Regions from separate parts of the Homo sapiens genome. Here region 2 is linked to region 1. Evidence: fine-mapped expression QTL. A gene starts in region 1. The other region holds a variant in brackets. All regions are shown on one strand. Distances are from middle to middle. Region 1 holds the start of ISLR (immunoglobulin superfamily containing leucine rich repeat). Region 2 overlaps CCDC33 (coiled-coil domain containing 33).

Evidence for each region. PIP is the estimated chance that this variant, and not a neighbour inherited with it, causes the effect. A credible set is the group of variants that fine-mapping cannot tell apart.
Region 2: its variant is the best candidate, but not a certain one, in a credible set for the expression of ISLR in tibial artery (GTEx, PIP 0.68).

The regions. Positions count from the first base shown.
Region 1 is chr15:74,170,810-74,176,173 of GRCh38, forward strand. ISLR (immunoglobulin superfamily containing leucine rich repeat) reads left to right here and starts at 2,901. Exons shown (of 2, transcript NM_005545.4): 1 at 2,901-3,210; 2 at 4,042-5,364. The coding sequence starts at 4,050. The coding sequence ends at 5,336. RefSeq lists enhancers at 1,646-2,634, 2,635-3,622, 3,623-4,611.
Region 2 is chr15:74,308,933-74,314,296 of GRCh38, forward strand. All of the region lies in intron 11 of CCDC33 (coiled-coil domain containing 33), which reads left to right. It overlaps CCDC33-AS1 (CCDC33 antisense RNA 1), which reads right to left. Exons shown (of 2, transcript XR_007064711.1): 2 at 2,582-3,026. Among named protein-coding and RNA genes, the nearest start is that of CCDC33-AS1, 8.1 kb to the right of the region's middle. The variant C/A (reference allele first, on the strand shown) is at 3,379.

The DNA of each region.
Region 1 (5,364 bases):
CCCCCCTCCCCTGCTAGGGTGACCAACTGTACTGGTTTGCTGAGACTGTCTCGATTTTAGCATGGAAAGTCCCATGTCCCAGAAAACCCATCAGTTCCAGGTGAACCAGGACTGTTGGCTGGTCACCCTACAAGCTGCCAGGGACCCACAGGAGACAGGGCCAGGACTCACAGGAGGGGCTCCCAAGCTTGGCCTCCTAGTTCTGGGGACAGTCAGGGCCGCACATACTCACCAAGGGTCCCCATCTCAGGCCTGAGCCCAATTTAGAGGAGGCCAGGAGAGGGGAGATGGCAGCCCAGACAGCCCACAGGAAGCTCCCAGCCTGAAAAGATCAGGGAGCCCGACTTCTGACTTGTCTCCCTGCCTGCTGGCATGATCTCCTGTGAGGTGGGCTTTACAGAAAGAACTTGAGCTCTGACAGCAAGAGAAGAGCAGAGGGGCAACCCAGGAGGTCATACGCCCCATCCTCAGAGGCCTGCACAACTGCTCCTGGGCTCTGCTGAGGAGCAGGCCCACCTGTCCCACTGTGAGACACCTTGGAGAGTCAATAGTCCTTGGCTGAGATCCTGGCGGCCTTATTGTCCTTCCTGGTGGAAGCGGGTATGGCCACACCTTGCAGGCAGTGGCAGGACCTGAGCAGACCAGGAAGATACATCAGTGACCAGCACGCACAGTCTCATTTCTGCCCAGGTGGGCTGGTCCCTCCCACTTTTCCCGCCCTCAGCCCCCCACATCTGTTTTGAGGTGGGAGTCTGAGCTTAGTGTTTGGCTGTCATTAAGGTCTTAGGTAGGGAATGAGGGGACAGACTCCCTGCCCCCAGAAGGCTGCTGACATACTCACCCACCCAACAGAGCATGGGTCTCCTACACTGTATGAAATATTCTCTAAAATGTCTTGGGCATGCCCCTTCCCTAGCCTGGGCCCAAAGGCCCTATCTGTAAGTTGATGAGGAGATGAAGTGGGTGAGCTCTAAAATGCTTCCTTCTGATGACCACCCAACTTGTCCATCATGCCATGAAGGGGGCGCTTACAGAGTGTCTTCCCTGTGCTGGAGATCAATAGCACCTGGGAAGTTAAGGCCTCTGCCCTCAGTGGGCTTCCTCTCTAGTAAGGGGTCGCACATTAAGCACGCATGAATAAATAATCACAGCTTATAGGAGGAGCTATGAAGAAAAGTCAGGAATGTCTGAGAGAACAGTCACTGGGAACTGAGGGCTGAGGAGGTGCTTGTACTCTGACCCTGATGTGCTTGCAAGGAGGGAGGTGGGGTGGGAACTATGAGCTCCTCAGAGCACCCTGGAGGTAAAGCTGGTGGCACAGACTTTGTGCAGGTGAGGGTGTGTGTATGGGCTGTGCAGAACATAGTGAAGCCCCCTCCACCAGGAAGCCCTCCCTGACTGACACTGAGGTCACTGAGTCTCCCCTCTGGTTTACTGAACCCTGGATGTGTTTCTTGCAGCCTCTGGTTGGCCCACCAAATTCAGGACTTTCCTAGAAATTCTCCAGCACAGTCAGGATGATGCAAGAGAGGGCTTCCTCTGCAGGGGAAAGAGAGGGTGCTCTCCATTGGACCATAATAATATCCTCAGCATCAGACTCGGGTGTTTTGCAGGCAGCATGCTGGGGACTTCTGTGGCCTTGCTTGGTGACAGGGAATGGGGTGTGATGAGCTGGGGCAGGCTTCCTGGGGATGCTTTCAGCCAAAGATGAGCCCTGTCTGCCCTTGGCCCTGCTGAGAGGGTAAGTTGAGTCATGAGCAGAATTCAACCAGTTATCAGATGGAAGGCCAAGGAAGCTTGGGGAGGGCTACTGAGGGGATACGGTAGGCTTGTCTGTGGAGAGCAAAATTCTTCAGTCTACAAAGTTCTTTTCTGGGCTCCTTCATCTTTCGGTTTCTCTTCCAGCTCCCTCGTTTTGGGCCTCTTTTGTTTCCCCATTCCCCTCCCCTGGGCCTTCCCGTTTGGAAAAGGGGTCACATATCCTCACCCTGGAGGCGTCTGCCCCTTCCACACAGTTGGTGTTGGAACAGTGGAGCTCAGAGAGGCCGATGCTGACCGCGTAGATGTCCAGCACCAACAGTGGGATTTTGGGCCCTGTGGGGGACACAGAGAGAACTCTCCGGGAGTGCGGCCCCTTGGCCTCCCCTCTGGGTGCCCAGTGGGCAGTGGGCCTGGGTGGCTCAGAATCCCAGCCAGGAGCACTGAAGGTCAACAGGCTCCCGCCCTGAGTTTTCTGAGCCAGGCCTCCCTGTTTCCTCCCCAGCCAGTGGGGAGCGCAGTGAGGGGCGGGGCCTGGAGTCTTGGGAGCTCCCTGGACAACAACATGCATTTAGCGCAGCTCAGTCTCAGAGCCAGCAGGATATGTTTTCTTAAAAAAAAAAAAAATGCCTAACATCTTGGCTTTCACCGAAGGGTTGGTATCTGCTTTGTACACTTTGGCCTTCTTGGCTTTTCACTGAAACACACACACATGGATGCACACTCACTTCCACACACAAACCCACACCAAGACAGACACACACACACACTCACACACAAACTCATGTACATGGTTTCATACCCACATCCATGCAAACACACATACAAATCCAGAAATACGCACCCTCACACCCACAAACTTGTACACACACACACACGTATACACACCAACACACATACAACCCTGGCTTGGACAAAAGCTTCCCGTTTTTTCTTGTTTGAAGTGGAAATCTCCCACCTTCCATGAGATTCAATTTCTCGCCCTTCCCCCGCTAAAATCCTCCTGGCCCCATCATTTCTTGGGTCCTTTCCAGACAGTGCTGTGTCTTTAAGGAAGTTGAAGCTGCTAAAAGTGAGTGAGAGAGAGAGAAAAAACACAACCCAAAAAAATTTGGCATCTCTTCCCCCCTCAAGTTTCTGGTGTCACTTATGAAACACAGGTCCTTGTTGCTGCAGAGAAGCAGTTGTTTTGCTGGAAGGAGGGAGTGCGCGGGCTGCCCCGGGCTCCTCCCTGCCGCCTCCTCTCAGTGGATGGTTCCAGGCACCCTGTCTGGGGCAGGGAGGGCACAGGCCTGCACATCGAAGGTGGGGTGGGACCAGGCTGCCCCTCGCCCCAGCATCCAAGTCCTCCCTTGGGCGCCCGTGGCCCTGCAGACTCTCAGGGCTAAGGTCCTCTGTTGCTTTTTGGTTCCACCTTAGAAGAGGCTCCGCTTGACTAAGAGTAGCTTGAAGGTAAGCCAGTGGGGAGGAGGGCTCCAGGGCCAGCGGCGGGAGCGGGAGGCCTGTTGGACATAGGGGCTGGTTCCCTCTTGGTCCATCCCTGCTGGTCTGAGGTGCGTGGGACAATCCCTAGCTTGGAGCCGTCCAGGGGGCATCTGCTTCTTCCACAACCCACAACTGAGGCCCCAGAAATCCCAGCTGCGTTTGGGCTGAGCCTCTGGCCTCACCCAAGTCAGCTGAGAGGTCCTGGCGGGGGTTTATTTAGGCAGCTGCCTGGCTAAGTTTGAACAGAACAGGCCACGGGTGTGATTCCACAGAAAAGGCCTGGTGTCTGCTGCGGTCATGGCCGGAGGAGCGGGAGAGGGCGGGTGGAGTGGATGGGGGTGGTGTGCACTGCACAAGGGGCCTCGTCTGGGCCAAGGCAAAGCATACCTATGGGGGGCTCCGGTGGGAGGGACTGCGGCCAGGATGTGGGAGGGCAGGGGGAGGTTCTGCAAAGTGCTGGGGGAGGGGGGTGGCTGGAAAACAGATTTCAAGTCATAAAGTCAGCTAGGAACAGGCCGAGGCAGGGAGAACTCTCCACTCGGAGGAGGAGCTGGGGTCCTCTTCCATCCCGTCTTCATCCTGCCTGGCTGCGTGACCTCGGGCAAGTCTCCGCCCTTCTCTTGGCCTCAGTTTCTCCTTCCGTAGGATGGGGGCGGTGGGCTAGGTGGTGTTGGGATTTAGCTGGGTTATGTGGGACAGGGCCTCCTGATGGGAAAGAGCTCTGGCTGGGCTTGTGGGAGGAATGAGTCCCTTTGGCAGGTTCTCGGGATCCCCTGGGTGACATGCCTTTCTCTGCAGGAGGCACCATGCAGGAGCTGCATCTGCTCTGGTGGGCGCTTCTCCTGGGCCTGGCTCAGGCCTGCCCTGAGCCCTGCGACTGTGGGGAAAAGTATGGCTTCCAGATCGCCGACTGTGCCTACCGCGACCTAGAATCCGTGCCGCCTGGCTTCCCGGCCAATGTGACTACACTGAGCCTGTCAGCCAACCGGCTGCCAGGCTTGCCGGAGGGTGCCTTCAGGGAGGTGCCCCTGCTGCAGTCGCTGTGGCTGGCACACAATGAGATCCGCACGGTGGCCGCCGGAGCCCTGGCCTCTCTGAGCCATCTCAAGAGCCTGGACCTCAGCCACAATCTCATCTCTGACTTTGCCTGGAGCGACCTGCACAACCTCAGTGCCCTCCAATTGCTCAAGATGGACAGCAACGAGCTGACCTTCATCCCCCGCGACGCCTTCCGCAGCCTCCGTGCTCTGCGCTCGCTGCAACTCAACCACAACCGCTTGCACACATTGGCCGAGGGCACCTTCACCCCGCTCACCGCGCTGTCCCACCTGCAGATCAACGAGAACCCCTTCGACTGCACCTGCGGCATCGTGTGGCTCAAGACATGGGCCCTGACCACGGCCGTGTCCATCCCGGAGCAGGACAACATCGCCTGCACCTCACCCCATGTGCTCAAGGGTACGCCGCTGAGCCGCCTGCCGCCACTGCCATGCTCGGCGCCCTCAGTGCAGCTCAGCTACCAACCCAGCCAGGATGGTGCCGAGCTGCGGCCTGGTTTTGTGCTGGCACTGCACTGTGATGTGGACGGGCAGCCGGCCCCTCAGCTTCACTGGCACATCCAGATACCCAGTGGCATTGTGGAGATCACCAGCCCCAACGTGGGCACTGATGGGCGTGCCCTGCCTGGCACCCCTGTGGCCAGCTCCCAGCCGCGCTTCCAGGCCTTTGCCAATGGCAGCCTGCTTATCCCCGACTTTGGCAAGCTGGAGGAAGGCACCTACAGCTGCCTGGCCACCAATGAGCTGGGCAGTGCTGAGAGCTCAGTGGACGTGGCACTGGCCACGCCCGGTGAGGGTGGTGAGGACACACTGGGGCGCAGGTTCCATGGCAAAGCGGTTGAGGGAAAGGGCTGCTATACGGTTGACAACGAGGTGCAGCCATCAGGGCCGGAGGACAATGTGGTCATCATCTACCTCAGCCGTGCTGGGAACCCTGAGGCTGCAGTCGCAGAAGGGGTCCCTGGGCAGCTGCCCCCAGGCCTGCTCCTGCTGGGCCAAAGCCTCCTCCTCTTCTTCTTCCTCACCTCCTTCTAGCCCCACCCAGGGCTTCCCTAACTCCTCC
Region 2 (5,364 bases), 140 kb after region 1:
GGAGGCCAAGATGAAGACCTCACCCTCCTGCCTTCTCCTGTATGTGGGTGGGGGGGCTCCTGTGGAGGGCCAGTGGGCTCACTCAGAGAGCTGGCTCAGGATCTGGGAGCTGACCGTCCAGATGGGGCCCTCCTGCCTACCTCAGCCTTCCTCCTCCTAAGACACAGCCACCAGGTGACCTGTCCCAAGCCCAAATCTAGACATGCTACCCCCCGCCCTGAACCCATGCATTGTTCCCTTGCCTGCAACAGGAGCCCCTCAGCCTGATGGGCCCTGGGGCTTCTGAAGCCCCTGCCTCAAGCCTTTACCTGAACCCAGAATATTCTACCCATGCTCAATGGCAGTGGTGCCTCCTCCCAGCTCCAGGCCTGTGTTCCCGGCTCACTCCACCTTGTACCCCTCGCCCACCTCCACACCAGGTGCCTGGCGTGCAGTGGGTGCTCAGTAAGTGTGTGCTCACTGAATGCACAGAATGCCCTTCCTGAGCAGCTTGGTGGACCAGGGGTGGTCTGGATCACAGAGGTGTTTACCTCCTACTCGGCTCCCAGCCAGCACCTACAGGAACCTCAGTCTCTTTAGCTGGGAAAGGGGGACAGTGCTAGCCCTTATCCCCAGGCTGGCTGTGAAAACCTCACAGTGCCTGGAGCGGCTTCTGTGAGCCATGAAGAGCTTCTGGCGCCTTTTTTTCCTACAGTGGGGAGTGAAGAGTACAGTGTAGGAGAGTGCAGAGGGTCTGGGAACAAGCTTCCATCTCTCTCGGTCCCTCCAAGACCCACATCTTACACCACTATTGGCCACTCCTTCAGGGAATCTATTTATCCACTACAAATGGATCTGTGCCCCACCCGTTCCAGACCCCCCAAGTCCTCCACCAGCCATCTCAACAGAACAGCCTGGACTTTAAGTATGAGGGGAACTTAAAAACTCTGGGAGAAGCTAGCGCAGTGGCTCACACCTGTAATCCCAGCACTTTGGGAGGCTGAGGCAGGAGGATCACTTGAGACCAGGAGCTTGAGACCAGCCTAGGTAACATAGCGAGATGCCGTCTCCACAAAATTTTTTTAAAAAATTAACCAAGCATGGTGACACGTGCCTGTAATACTAGCTACTTGGGAGACTGAGGTGGGAGAATTGCTTGAGCCTAAGAGGTTGAGGCTGCGGGCAGTGAGCCATGTGCCCGCCACTGCACTCCAGCCCGGATGACAGAGTGAGAACCTGACTCAAACAAAATAAAAACAAAAACAACTCTGGGAAGATGGTTAGGAGGCAGGACTGGAGATGTGCTTGGTGCAGAAGGTCTGGCTAATCAGAATTTGAATTCTGAGGCCGGGCACAATGGCTCATGCCTGTAATCCCAGCACTTTGGAAGGCCGAGGCGGGCAGATCACGAGGTCAAGAGATTGAGACCATCCTGAACAACATGGTGAAACCCCGTTTCTACTAAAAATACAAAAATCAGCTGAGCGTGATGGTGCATGCCTGTAATCCCAGCTACTTGAGAGGCTGAAGCAGGAAAATAGCTTGAACCCAGGAGACAGAGGTTGCAGTGAGCCGAGATCAAGCCACTGCACTCTAGCCTGGGCGACAGAGGAGACTCCATCTCAAAAAAAAAAAAAAAAAAGAAATTTGAATTTTGAGACCGACTCTGAGGGGCCTGAGGTGGTCAGGGGGCATCCTGAGAGAGCCAGCAGGGAGGGTACCCGCCAGCAGCGAGAGTGCTGCCCCCAGGAAGCCCCCTCCCTTCATTGCCACCTGCATCTGTGAGGTCTGGGCCCTGGATTTCCATTACCTGAGCAGTGGGCAAGGCTGAGCAGGCTGTAGAGAAGGTTCCCATGGGGGACTCTCAGGGATGGGGAGAGTGAGGTGTGAGAGGAACTGAGGCCAAAAGAGGCTGGGTGACAGGCAGGGGAGGTGGGGGGCTCTGAAAGGACCAACTGCCTTGAGGCTCAAGCCTCAAGAGGCAAAGCTGAACACAGGGATTACTGGGGTTTTGATGGCTGAAGCACTTTGTGAAGCTCTGGGGTGGCCTGGAGCCTGGCAGCAGTGAGGTGGTTTTCCGCAACACAGGGCTGGGGAGGAGGCTTGTGGCCTAGGCTGGAGGCAGGACCGTGATCTGCCTGGACAGGGCGCACGGGGCCTGTAGCACAGGCCTGGAGGCAGGACGGGTGGTCTCACCCCACCTCTGCTCTCCTGTGACACTGAGCTCCCATCACCCTGGTCCCTTCCCCTACCCATGGTCCCTCCCAAGGCTAAAGATGGTCTAGGCCTCCTTGGATCCCCCAAGAGCCCCAAATGTCCAGACAGGGCTCCTTCCCCCAGGGAGAGATGTGGCAGGTGCCCCCAGCATCTCTCCCCTCCACACCCCCTACCCCAGTGTGTTCTCTCCTGGCCTGGGTGAGGACAACAAATGGGACACAGTGGGCACATGCTTCGCAAAAATAATGAGAGGGAAGAATGTGAAAATGAGAGCCTAGGATTCAGGCCTGGAGAGCACAGTCATCTAAACAGACGAGGCTCTAATAGCAGGATCTCAACCCCTCCAGCTGAAAACGACCAGGAACACACATGCAGTTTAACAAAGTTGGAGTTATTCTGGGTTTATTGACTCGTTGTAGTAAGGGGGATGCAACCATGGGAGTTGCGGGGCATCCCAGAAAGAGTGTGTGGGAAAGGACTTCACAGATTCAAGCTGGTGTTAGGGGATTTGGGAAAGGGTTTGAGGAAACAGGCTTTGCTCTGGGTTAGATGACAGCGGGAGGCTGGCTTAGAATCAGCATTCTAAGAGTCGGTATCATAGGAGTTCTCATCGAGAAGGCAGGAATGATGGTCACTAATAAAGAAGCAGCAGTCACTCATATTAGCCAGGAAAGGGAGTTTGGTCATTTTTGTGGTTTGGACAATGACTATGTTTTATCTGTGTTCACACACTTTACAGAGTGGTCAGAGAGTGGTGTTGTGAATGACACCAGGGTCCAGCTGTGGCCGCCAGCTCCTGGCCACCAGGGGCCGCTTTTCTTTCTTGGTAGCTTCAGACAGTGACCGAGAAGAGATGAAAGGGACAGATGTTACTCACACAGCACATGCCAGGCACTGTGCTCAACACTAGACAGACCTTGCTCACGTAATCTTCACCACAGCCCTCTCCTCATTGTACAGATGAGGAAACTGAGGTTCAGAGAGGGAAGGTGCCCATCAGAGTCCAGAAGGACTGGCAAAACTAGAATGTAAACCCAGCTTATGTTCCCCTTGTTCCAAAGTCCCTTTCACCCCCTTGCCCTTGCCTAGAGGCTGAGCCTCTGCTCGTTCCTCGGAGCCACGTGGTCCTGAATAGTGTCCCTTGGACACCCCCGCTAGGCACATCTTCCTGAAGGGGTTCAG[C/A]CTGTCCATGGCAGGCCAGCCGCAGTGTCAGCAGCCGCCCCAGCCCAGGAGGGTCCCCCGTGCCTAGAGGTGTGAAGGGTAATGAGGCCCCGTAATTAAGGTTTCTGAAGACATGGCTGGGAGATTTATAGACAGGCTTTGTCAATAATTGTGCTACCGGCTGCAGATCCAGCGAGACATCGGTAAGTGCTCGTTACAGCTTCTCCCTGCTCCCTGCCCTGCCCCCGCACCACCCCTCCTGAGCCATCAGCCTGCCTGTTCACAGCGCCTATGTACACAGGCTTCGCTCAATTAATTTGCACTTGTTGGCGCCATCTGTTCTTTTCATGTGTCCTTATCAGGAGTGTGTGCGTCCTGCCTCCTGCTCAGATGTGACAGTGCAACCCTCCTCATACATATAGGGGCTTCCTGGGCAGGCTCACATCTCCCCTCTCAGACTGGGCTCCTCAGGGTGGGACACTGTCTCCCCCCTCAGTCTAGGACCCCTGAAGGCAAGGCCAAGTCTTCATCTTCCTTCACCTCCCCCTCAACACCCACAGCCTCTCTCTGCTGAGCCAAGCTTGGCCTGGACCCTAGCAAAACCTTCTGAGTCTGACCCCACCAGGCAGGGCCTCAGCCCTCCAGAGGAAGCCCCCAGACCCCAAACCAAACAATGCCCTGGAAGGCTGGCTGCCTCTGGGTGCTGGGAGGTAGGGTGTTTGTTCTGATCCCCACTCTGGCTCCCATAGCCTGAGCTTTGGCAGGTTCTTGTTACGAGAACAGTGACATCTTTGAGTCACAGGGGTGGGAAGGGGCTAAGAAGCCACTTGGAAGTCTCTGTTTCCCTTGAGCAGCATTGGTTAAGGGTGGTACAGGGGCCAAGGCTTGGACAGCTCCTAGAGTGGGGTGGGTCATGGCCTGGTGGCTCCAGGATGCCAGGGCAGGTGGCCCACCCAGATAACTGAGAAAAGGCAGCACCTCAAGGATGCTTTCCCTTGGCTCTCTCCCCATCCCGAGGTTTTGGGCAGCCAACATCCCAGCCTACTCTTCTCTGGGTCATTCTGTCTTCCAGAAGGCCTCTCAGTCCCTTCCAACCCCAGCACAGATTTCTTTCTTTCTTTCTTTCTTTTTTTTTTTTTTTTTTTTTGAGACAGAGTCTCACTCTGTCATCCAGGCTGGAGTACAGTGGCGCGATCTCAGCTCACTGCAACCTCCGCCTCCCCGGGTTCAAGCGATTCTCCTGCCTCAGCCTCCCAAGTGTCTGGGATTACTGGTGCTGGCCGCGATGCTCCGCTAATTTTTATGTTTTTGGTAGAGACGGGGTTTCGCCATATTGGCCAGGATGGTCTCGAACACCTGACCTCAGGTGATTAGCCCAGCACAGATTTCTAACCCCGGAGGGCTATGAATGCTGAGCTGGCCCTGCCACAGAAGTGCTAGGCAACTTCTTACCCTGTCTGGGCTCTGGGTCCTGCATAGCACATTGGATTTGTTTAGAATGCAACCAGACCTTATTCTGGGAGGGTCACAAGCATGCTTGGTGCCAGCATCCAGGCCCAGCCCAGTCCACTTTGCCTGCCTATAACAGGCTTGACAGCTGGGCCTTGGACTTACATCCAAGGTCCCATGACTGAACCCTGCAGCCGCTCCAGTCTCATCTCCTACCAGCCCCTCCTTGCCGCGTGTCCTGTCTGCACTCCCACGGTGTTCCAGGCTGCTGCTCACCTCCACACCTGTGCTCCTGCTGTTCCCTGTGCTAGGACTGTGTCTCCTCCTTATGCCTGTATCACCTGACAAACTCCTACTCATCCTTCAAAACCCATCTCCCGCTCTGACATACCCTCCAATACACCCTTGCCTGCACCCCAGGGTGAGGAGGGGGCTGGCTGGGGGGCTCCCCCGCTACTGCATTTGCCATACTGATTTACTATGCCACACTGCCTGCTCTCACATCGACTAGAATACAAGCTACTTGGGGACAGAGACCCCAAGCCTTGGCCACATCTG